Linked DNA regions of Homo sapiens. The protein of the gene in region 2 interacts with the protein of the main gene of each other region in a pairwise test. Each region holds a gene or a part of one and is shown on either strand. Other genes may lie near its edges. The genes, in order: CUEDC1, OSTF1 and SOCS7.

Region 1 (3,653 bases), on a different chromosome or scaffold from region 2:
ACTGCCACCTCTTGTAATGCCTGCAGTGAACATGGTGAAGAAGACATAAAAGTCCCTTAAGAGTCATTGCTCAGAACACAGTGATTCACTCTTGTCTCTCTGCACTTAGAACCAGAGGCAAATGAATTTAAACTACAGAGGGAGGATTCAAGTAAGGTATGAGGAAGACATTCCAGATAGGATGTGAGATGTAAGAAAAGTGACTCATAGGCACAGAGGGGAATGGCCTCCCCTGAAGGTCTTCAGAAATGGGAACAAGTTTCATTTGTCTTTGTGGTTTAAGAGGTTTCATCTGGAGACAGGAAGATGAAGTAGAGGCCCCTAGAGGTCCATGTCAGCTCGGTGATCGGAGGATAAAAGGAGCTGGAATTTTTGAGCTAGAAGATTACTTAAATTTGGCCTAACCCCTCCTTTGACTGTTGGAGTGATTGAAGAATGCCCGATAACACTGAGCAGCTCATCCATGAATGAGTGAGCCAAGGCACAAACAGAGTCTGCCCAACAGCTCTGGGCCAGGTGACCCTGGCCCGCAATGTTCCTGGTCAGCATCACCCGGGGGTGCTCACTGGGAGGGACCTACAGCTCTCGGGGATGGAGTCCAAGCCGTGTGAGGAGAGCTCAGGAAACCTGGAAGTAGTGGAGCATTTGTCTTGGTATTGGAATACAGAAAGCATCAGCCCCCATACACACAGTGTTTCTGAGAATGGCACTCTCAGTTGGAGCTAGTGGGTTATCTCCTAGATGCACCTAGAAGAGTTTTAGGCATATATATGAGGCCCTCAGTAAACTTTGTTGGATGAATGAGTAAATAACAGATAATCCAAGACTTAATTTCTCTTTGACCATACCCTTGTTAGGCCAGTGCACTTAACCCTTCTTATTCTGTTTTGCTTAAGCTGACAGTAGGCTTTTTTTCATAATACTGCCTAGCCACAAAGAAAGCTGCCCACAAGTATGCTGGGGGCAAGGGTAAGAAGAGAAAACACAGTTTAGGATCCTTCTCAACATTTATACTTCTTTGAAGGATCATCAAGGCCTGACATTATGTTCAGTCATAATGGCTTTTGCTTTTTTTCTTTTGTATTGTTCCAAGCACAAAAGTGTTTTTATTTTTTATTATTTATTTATTTATGAGACAGGGTCTTGCTCTTTCACCCAGGCTGGAGTGCAGTGTGGTGTGATCTCAGCTCACTGCAACCTCTGCCTCCCAGTTTCAAATGATTCTTGTGTCTCAGCCTCCCGAGAAGCTGGGATTACAGACATACGCCATCACAAACAGCTAATTTTTTTGTGTTTTTAGTAAAGATGGAGTTTCACCATGTTGGCCTGGCTGGTCTCGAACTCCTGAGCTCAAGAGATCCACTCGCCTTAGCCTCCCAAAGTACTGGGATTACAGGTGTGAGCCACCGTGCCTGGCTCGAGCACAAAAGTAAAACGCTTCGTTTTTCAAATTTACGAAAAACATGTAGTATAACAGTCTCAGCCACATTACAGCAAGATGGTTACAGGGATCTCAGAAGAGAACAAAGCTTGCTCTTGGAAGATAATCTGATTAAGAGTGAACCAAATATGAACGGATGCTGGACAATGAGTTTAAAAATAATACCGGGTGGTGAACTTTAGCTCACGGGGTGAACTGAAATAGACTTGTGCAAATAAGAGAGAAGTAGCAGCAGCAAACACGACGGCAAGAACTTTTGCTTCCTCCTCTAATCCCATGATTCCCTATTCATTAAGAAAGTATTTGATGTTAGGAGGGCACTGCAAAGCTTTTTTTTTTTTTTTTTCTCCTGGTGACCAGCAAGCTGGATTTGGAGCTCTGTTAAGGGGAAGCCTCTCTGTGGTCATGTAGGGTGATCAGGCTCCTGAAATGATTTCACTTTGCTCTGGTCTGAGATTAGTTTCGGTTTCAGGCTGTACCCACAGCTGGGAGAGAGCTAGTGAGCTCCAGGGAGGGTCAGCTGGGGGAGTTTCACCATTGGCTGTGTCAGCCAATGGCAAGGTGTGTGAACAGGGAACTCCTGTGTTGAGCAGAGAGAGGAAGAAGATGCGTCCGAGATGGAGTTGGGGAAGGCAGCACTTGCGTGTTTGTGTGTCCAGAGACCGGGCTGGTGATGATGAGCAGGAGGGAGCGTATGAAGATATCAGATGTGCAAAGGACAAAACCCCCACCCAATTACAGGACCACTGAGCCTCGAGCTAGGGAAGTCTTAAAACAGATTGCCTGGGCCGGGTGGATTTTCCCTGAGCAGGTGTACACCTGAAAGGAAAGCAAGTGTGAGCATGCCACAGAGTCAACATACATCTTGTACTGGCATTCTTAAGATCAGCCTCTACGGTGCAGCATTTTCTTGCATATGAGTTTCCTTTAAAAAAAAAAAAGTCAAATTAAAGTTTGAGAACTGATAGTTGCGAACTTGCAGACCTTTGCATGTTGGTGGATCCTTTGAGAACTTCAAGCTGTCATTTTTCCTGAGACGGCTTGAGGCCAGTCTGGTTGGTTCACAGGACATCATTACCCTAGAAAATCAGCAGTTTTCCTCCCCTGACTGGTTCTGGGTGAGGCATACACAGATGTTTCCTTCCCTCAGCAGTACTAGAGCATCATTACATTTTATTTCTCAAAGTTATAAATTCATTTTATTTTGAAAAGAGAGAATCACTGAATTTTACAGCTGGAAAGGATTCTGAAGACTGCTTGCTTGGTTGGCTCCTGGAGGAATCTGAGGTTGTGGGTCGTTAAGTGCTTTGAAAAGACCAATGGTATGTAATTAAGAATACTGAATCAGAATGCCTGTGCTTCATCCCAGCCTCTGCTAGTTGCTGCTGTGTTCTTGGGGCAAGTTACTCAATCTCTCTGAGTCTTAGTTTCCTGATCCATACAGTGGGAGTAATAATATTACCAAATGGTTTTTTGGTGTTTTTTTTTTATTTTTTATTTTTGAGGTGGAGTCTTGCTCTGTCACCCACAGCCTCCACCCGCCCGGGTTCAAGTAATTCTCCTGTCTCAGCCTCCTGAGTAGCTGGGATTACAGGCGCCCTCCATTACCCCATGCCCAGCTAATTTTTGTATTTTTAGTAGAGACAGTGTTTCACCATGTTGGCCAGGCTGGTCTTGAACTCCTGACCTCAACTGATCCGCCCACCTCAGCCTCCCAAAGTGCTGGGATTATAGGTATGAGCCACCACGCCCGGCCAAAATATTACATAATGATTGTTAATTACTACCAAATACTTATTAAGCCCCTAGCACAATGTTTTGCATATTGTAAGTCCTCATTAAATGTTAGCTGCTGCTGTTATTGTTATTATTTTCATTTTGTGAAATCACACAGCTACTTAGTGGTAAAGCCAGGGCTACAATGTTAAATTCTTTTTATTCCAATTCTTTTCAGCATGGCCATAAGGAGATTTCACCACATTCTGGAAATATGGGAAAACCTTTACAAAAATGTTTATGCGGATGTCTTTGCATGAATGTTCATAATACAGCTAGAAGAAATGGGCTTAACCTATTTATTAGATATAGTTAGACTTTGGGCATGGGGGCATATGTCTACCAAAGAATTTGTTTCCACAAATATTATTTACTAGTGTTTAAAGGTTTCCTGAATGCTAGATTGGTTGCCTCTGCTGGAAGATTGGGGTGTTTT
Region 2 (3,653 bases):
CTGTGAGAAAACAAATGTTATTAAAAAAACTGAATGCAAAAAATTTCATGGTTCCTGACTACTCCATATGGAAAAGTATGGCATCTATCATAAGGAAATAAATTTTTTTAACCTTTCAAATCTTAGCGAAACTGTAATGAGTTGTTGGGTTTCTCCACTCTAAATACAACCTTGGAGATAAAAACTGGAAGTCTCACAATTATTAAATTTACCTATTTTATTAGACATGCACCTTCTCAATGATTATTGTCCTGACTTTGATCAAAGCTAACACAAGAAGTTGAACTAAAATGTGGCTCTCATTATTCTTCTGTGCTAATAAATATAAAATATAATTTAAAAAATAAAATCAGTTCTTACCTAAATATAAAAAGCTTTACTTACTTAACGACAATGAGTGATACCACAGAAACGGACAAAAGAAATAAAGTCTCTCAAAATGTTTATTTTTGTCAGAATAGCTGACAATTTTCTGTTAAGTATTTTGGTTTATTATTATAATAAGCATTTCCCCCCCTTGAAAAATCCATTCAAAATATCTCAACCATTGAGGTAAAGCATTTTAACTAAAAAAAAAAAAAAAAAAAAAATCCTAATTTGTTTTTAAAGAAAAAAAAAAATCTTAAAATTCCTTTTGCTTGATAAATAGAAATAATATCTTCTTGTTCTACTTTGGTGAACATAAATGTGCCAAGAATCCAGTCACTTACTGGCAAACCAAAGGTGGGAACAATTCATTTACACGTTCTACTCAAACACAGTGCAACACTGCCGTGTTCATATATAATTTTCTTTATAGTTACCAACACTTTTCTGGCAAAGACAAAGTTTTGGAATGGCAAAAGCAACAGAAGTTTTAGATCTCAAAGCTCCAGAAAGGAATTAATCTGAGTCTTCATCATCGAGATAGTCCTCGGCATTGCTTAATGTTCGAACTGCATCTGAAAGAAAGAGGAGGGAAAAAAGCAAAATAGGGAAATTATAAACTGCTCAGATTTTATTTTTTCATTTTCAAAGCTCTTAAATTAGAATAGAATCTTCCATCTGACCCAGGGATTGTACTTTCCCTGAGGATCTTTCTCTGCTTTTGCTTTTCAGCCTAACCATTAAGTTTCTGTTGCCACAGAGGCTGATGATGCGTTCCACAGTCATGCAGAAGTTTTGGTCCTAGGTGCCATGCATCCATTTCCAACAGAAAGGCCTAGCCACAGGCACCATGACCAACATGATACACCACCAGCAGCACTCCACTCTGACAACTGAGCTTCCAACCTCCTCTCCCAGTGACAGCCTGAGGTCTTGCCTAAAGGCAAAGTCACTAGGTAGGACGTTAACTACCGAAGGGGAAAAAGGAAAAGAAAGAATGAAAACAAAGAAGCTTCCATTTCAATGTAGAAAACACCGACAATAAAGCAAAAGGCTGAAATGGGGGGGAAAAGTTTTAAAATAGAGCTGGACCCCATCAAATGTTCAAGCAAACTTGAACAGGACTCAAAAGGAAGACATCTGATCTTTCACAGTCACCCCTTCAACTGTCTAGTCAAATTCCTATAGCAACAGATTAGCCCAAGTATAATTTTAGTGGGAAAAACAGAATGCAAACACAAGCACATTGTTGAAGTTCAATAAATATATGTCACAGCACCCAGATCTTCATGATCTCTAAGTATCACATCTCTGAAGCTTATTATACATATGACCGGTTCCAAGTATGGGGCAGGAAGTGTAAGGGATGGACCTAGAACCCTAGTCATGTCATAAAGCAAGCATCCTAACAAAGACAGCATCACGTGAAAGGGTCTGAGATTCAACTTAAAGAGGCCTCCACTAGCCAAAGATGGGCTATTGATAAAGCTACTAATTGGAATGGATTAAAGCACATTAAATATTTCAAGGCACACCAAAAAGAACTCATCTGTCACCCTTTGGAGGATGACAGAGACCAGCTTATTATTTTAAAACCTCTTAAATAAAGGTCAAAAATCAAGCATTTATCCTGCCCTTGCTACATTAACTGTTCCTCTGCGTAACAAAACAATTGATGAGGGAAAACTTTTCCTAATAGAATGTTCCAGCTAATAACTCAAAAAGAAGTGATTTAATTAGAATATCATCATTTTGTGCCGTTTAGTGAAGTAACAGATCTAGGCAACGATCATCAATGGATGTCACATCACAGGAAGAGTGACAACCAGGTATCATGTGCCCCTGATAAAAGAACACAATATTCTATATGATTTATTATTCCTTCTACTACCAAGAAAGATACATGATTAGGTAGGTAGGTAGATAGGTAGGTAGGTGAAGAGATGGATAGATTGAACCTAAATTGGATCAAACCTCTGGCTAGCTAGCTAGATTTGATACATAGCTAGGTAGGTAGGTAAGTAGGTAGGTAGGTAAGTAGATGGATAGAACCTAAATTAGATCAAACCGATAGATAGATTAGATAGATAGATAGGTAGATAGATAGATAGATAGATAGGCAGGCAGATACATGATTGATTCATGATTGATTGATTGATAGAATGAACCTAAATTGGATCAAACCTCTAAATCTAACACTAATTGACAAAAACATAAAGGACAGAGGAACATGACAAATAACACCATGGGAATGCAGTTAGCAATGTCCACAATGGGAAATTCAAGTGAGTTGACCCAGTTTCTTTAATAAATAAATTGCAAGGTTAAAAAGGGGGAAGAAGAGAGGGAAAGGAACTATTGCTTAAAAAATAAATAAAGAGACATATCTACCAATCACAAACTGACCTTATGTGAATCCTGACTTAAATAAACCATAAGTAAATAAATAAGTAAAAACAAAGATGTATGAGAAAATGGAAGTTTGGACAAGGACAAGATATTTGATGATATTAAGGAATATTAAGGAATTATTTTTTAGGTATGCTAATGCTCTTTTAAAAAAAAAAGTTTTCATGTTTACATGTTTTGGAAAATGATTATTGAGAAAAAGAAAAGAAGAAGGGATGATCAGTACAAGGGAGGTGGAAGCCGATTTATCTTGCAAGAGAGAGAAGGAAAGATAAAGCAGAACAGAGGCCAAGTCTCTTTTCTGGATCTCATTCTGTCACCCAGGCTGCAGTGCAGTGGTACAATCATGGCTCACTGCAGCCTTGACTTTCTGGACTCAAGTGATCCTCCCACCTCAGCCTCCCAAGTAGCTAAGACTACAGGCATGCAGCACCACACTCAGCTAGTTTTTAATTTTTTTTGTAAAGACGTCATCTCACTATGTTGTCCAGGCTAGTCTTGAACTCCCAGATGCAAGCAATCCTCCCTGCCTCCCAAAGTGCTGGGATTACAGGTGTGAGCCGCCACACCTGGCCATGTTTCACTGACTTCACACCAGCCTTCAAGCTACTGGAAGTCTCCAGGTTGACTCTATTCTTCTCCACTCTCCTCAAGAGGAGTTCACAAGAAGTGGGAGGAATATATTTTGTTCTCCCCCAACACACACCCAGGACCTTCAGGACTTCATGTCAACTTGGTAAAATGTAGCTTTCTAAGCTAAAGCCTGAGAGACAAATAGGAAAACTCTGTCCCCTTCTACTCCACTATCCTAAGTTTTGCCCATATTCTGTGTCCTTGGATGGTTACTTCTGCTCTTTATTTTATTCTTACTTCTATTA
Region 3 (3,653 bases), on a different chromosome or scaffold from region 2:
AAGTATGTTGTCAGTGATCATGGAAAGGCCTTGGGATGCGGTGTACATGCTTTCATTTGTTTTGTTTTCATGCCTTCAAATAAAATTTTAAAACTATCTGGGCCGGGCATGGTGGCTCATGCCTATAATCCCAGCACTTTGGGAGGCTGAGGCAGGTGGATCACCTGAGGTCAGGAGTTCGAAACTAGACTAGCCAACATGGTGAAACCCCGTCTCTACTAAAAATACAAATATTAGCTGGGTGTGGTGGCGGGCGCCTGTAATCCCAGCTACTCGAGAGGCTAAGGCAGGAGAATCGCTTGAACCTAGGAGTTGGAGCTTGCAGTGAGTCAAAATCGCGCCACTGCACTCCAGCCTGGGTGACAAGAGCAAGACTCTGTCTTAAAAAAACAAACAAACACTTTGGGAGGCTGAGGTGGGCGGATCACAAGGTCAGGAGATCAAGACCATCCTGGTTAACACAGTGAAACCCCGTCCCTACTGAAAATACAAAAAATTAGCCCGGCGTGGTGGTGGGTGCCTGTAATCCCAGCTACTCGGGAGGCTGAGGCAGGAGAATGGCATGAACCCGGGAGGCAGAGCTTGTAGTGAGCCGAGATCGCGCCACTGCACCCCAGCCTGGGCGACAGAGCAAGACTCCGCCTCAAAAAACAAACAAACAAACAAAAAAACTATTTGAACTTAAACCCCAATAATAGTAGATATTTTATTTTCCAATCAGTTGTGTCTATAGAATGTCTTTTGATATGACAATGGCTGAGAATTCTTTGACAGGTTTTGCAACTCAGATTTTCTCAAAGAATCTTGTTTACCTTCCATAGCCCCTTTGTTTATTGAAAGCAAAATATTCTTAGTTCCCTTGAATCCCAGTGTTCCTGCCATTCTGGATGTCTCCATGCTGTGGCGTGGGGCCCTTTTTGGGGTGGGATTCCCCAGCACAGAGCCTGCTAATACATAAGGGTGTGGTACTCCCATTGAGTCTATTTGGCATCAATCAGCAGGCGGGTTTGCACTGAGCGGTACTAATCCTAGCTTGCCCAAGCGATTGTAGTTGTTCTTTTAAAAGCATCATCTTTTTTTGGTCTCCTGGCCTAAAATTTCAGAAGCAGGAACTGGGGGTTATGGGGGTTGGGTATAAAAGGTAGCTAAACCTGATTATCCTGGCTTGAAATAATGGCAGGAATAATAGGCTTGTTAACTTTGATCCTAGCTGTTACCTTCTACTTACCAGCCTCCCTGCTGAACCAGCCTCTCTGCTGAACCAGCCTCTGCTGAACCAATTGGAATTTGGTGGGGACTCCTCTGAACGGCTTTTCTGGGTCCTCACCTTCAGGATACTGCTAGATGTGCCCAACAAGTATCTCCCATTCCCAGCAGGGATACTTTTGATTCTTGGCCTTCCCGAGAGCCTCAGGCCTGGGATTGGCCACTTGGGTCCAAGCAGTGTCTCTAGTTTGGCATAATTGGGCTACTCCGAGGAGCAGGACTCTCAGCTGTTATGAGTGATGCTAGGAGCCAGGCACAGTGGCTCACGCCTGTAATCCTAGCACTTTGGGAGGCTGAGGCGAGTGGATTGCTTGAGCCCAGGAGTTCGAGACTAGCCTGGGCAACATGGGGAAACCCCGTCTCTACTAAAAATACAAAAATTATCTGGGTACGATGGCATGCATCTGTGGTCCCAGCTACTCAGGAGGCTGAGGCGGGAGGATTGCTTGAGTCTGGGAGGTCAAGGCTGCAGTGAGCTGAGACTGGGCCACTGCACTCCAGCCTGGGTGACAGAACGAGACCCTGTCTCAAAAAACAAAACAAAAGACACACAAAAAAGTGATGCTAGGGAGGCCTTTGGCAGAGAATGGATTTCCTTAATTGTGAATGTGGTGGTGGTGCTTCTGGAAATGGAAATCAACAGCACTTTGTGGAGGGGCTTTTGCACAGAATACATATATGAACCATAAAGAAGTCCCATTTCCCCTCCCTAGGTTCTCTTCATACAAGAAATGGTAGTTAGCTCCATTGTTTCCTCTGAATACTTTCCTTTGTTTTCTTTCTTGAAGGACTGCCACCAACTCCTGTCCAGCTGCTCTATCCAGTGTCCCGATTCAGCAATGTCAAATCCCTCCAGCACCTTTGCAGATTCCGGATACGACAGCTCGTCAGGATAGATCACATCCCAGATCTCCCACTGCCTAAGTACAATGGGGTTGTCAGGTTTGGGACAGGAATGAGTAAGGGGGTTGTGGGGAGGTAACAATGTCAGTGAGGCCTGCAAGCTACCTTCACAGGCAGAGTCTGGCATAAAATATTTGCAGATGTCATTCTTACACATTTCCTGTGTCTTAGCACCTAACTCTAGAACTGTCATATTGCAGCCAGAGGGAGGAAGGTGTGTGTGTCAGCCTTCCTTCTGCAGTCTCTAGGAAGAATAGAGTAGAAGTGGTAAGAGTAAGGAAGACAGAACTATAATAACTGAGAAAATGGGGATTGTGTTAGGTCTCAACCATGTAGGGAGTGAAGAAGAGTTGAACAAAGGAGTTACTTCTTTTATATTTTGTATAAAAACCTTTTGTGTATATCCGTCATTTGTTTTTCACAGACCTCTGATCTCTTATATCCGAAAGTTCTACTACTATGATCCTCAGGAAGAGGTATACCTGTCTCTAAAGGAAGCGCAGCTCATTTCCAAACAGAAGCAAGAGGTGGAACCCTCCACGTAGCGAGGGGCTCCCTGCTGGTCACCACCAAGGGTATGAGCTCTCTGCCTCACTGCCCAGCCACATTTCTTCCTGGGCAGTCATCATCATGCATTGAGCCTTGGGCCCCCTCCCCACAACTCCCAACATGGATAGCCCCGATCCAGGCATTTGCCCATAGAATGACAAGATCTGACCGTGGAGTCCTCAAGGGGCACACACCCCATTTGGGAGAAAAGCAGACAGACGAGAAAGACAAGAAAGTAGATTGCCAGGAAACGTGCAAGCTAATCACTGAATGTGAGCAAGGAGGGGGACACCCAAGTGTAGCTAAGAGTGCGGCCTCTGGCAAGGAGAGGGTAATTGAAAAAAATAAGAAGAAGAGTGCAGCCTCCTCTCATACAGACTTGGGCTGATCTCCCTGATACTGCACAAATGGCATATAAAGCAGGAAGCTAAAGGGAAAGGAAACTTCATCAAAGAGAATGCAAACATGCCTTTAATTGCAACAGGCATGCACTTCAGTGAGACTCCACCATGTCCCACAGCTTGGAATATGGGGATGAGGAAAAACAGCCCACTCTTCTATTTAGCGTTCCATTTGGGCCATTACAAAGTAAATTGTTGAAACTAAGGAATTCATTTATCTACGAGGCTCTTCTCCCATCATTACACAGTTCTACCCATTTATTTTCCCATAAAACATCTTGCAATACTGGTTTGTGCAGATGAATTCCAATTAGTCTTTTAAATTGCACTAAAGTGAACATTGTGGGGCCAAGTTCCTGAGTAGGGAACACAATTGCCAGGGAGCCATGACTTTGGTGGTGGTGGTGACAAGCAAGATTGACTGCCAGTGTGCAGTGACTGCTTTCTTCTGGTGTGGATCCTGGAGTAGATGTACAGTCTCATCATGTCTTCAATTATATGCAAATTGTATGCCTTTGGAAATGACTAAATATC

Evidence for each region.
Region 1: the proteins of OSTF1 (region 2) and CUEDC1 interact in a two-hybrid assay, tested with the Homo sapiens proteins (one large-scale study listed by BioGRID).
Region 3: the proteins of OSTF1 (region 2) and SOCS7 interact in a two-hybrid assay, tested with the Homo sapiens proteins (one large-scale study listed by BioGRID).

Annotation. Positions count from the first base shown.
Region 1 is NC_000017.11:57,945,282-57,948,934, reverse strand, and holds part of CUEDC1 (CUE domain-containing protein 1), read left to right. Parts: intron 1-2,042; exon of another isoform or gene 2,043-2,763; intron 2,764-3,653.
Region 2 is NC_000009.12:75,143,971-75,147,623, reverse strand, and holds the end of OSTF1 (osteoclast-stimulating factor 1), read right to left. Parts: intron 942-3,653; coding exon 883-941; 3' UTR 359-882; downstream 1-358.
Region 3 is NC_000017.11:38,393,255-38,396,907, forward strand, and holds part of SOCS7 (suppressor of cytokine signaling 7), read left to right. Parts: intron 1-2,054; coding exon 2,055-2,190; intron 2,191-2,593; coding exon 2,594-2,714; 3' UTR 2,715-2,744; intron 2,745-3,653. UniProt on the Homo sapiens protein: Substrate-recognition component of a cullin-5-RING E3 ubiquitin-protein ligase complex (ECS complex, also named CRL5 complex), which mediates the ubiquitination and subsequent proteasomal degradation of target proteins, such as DAB1 and IRS1.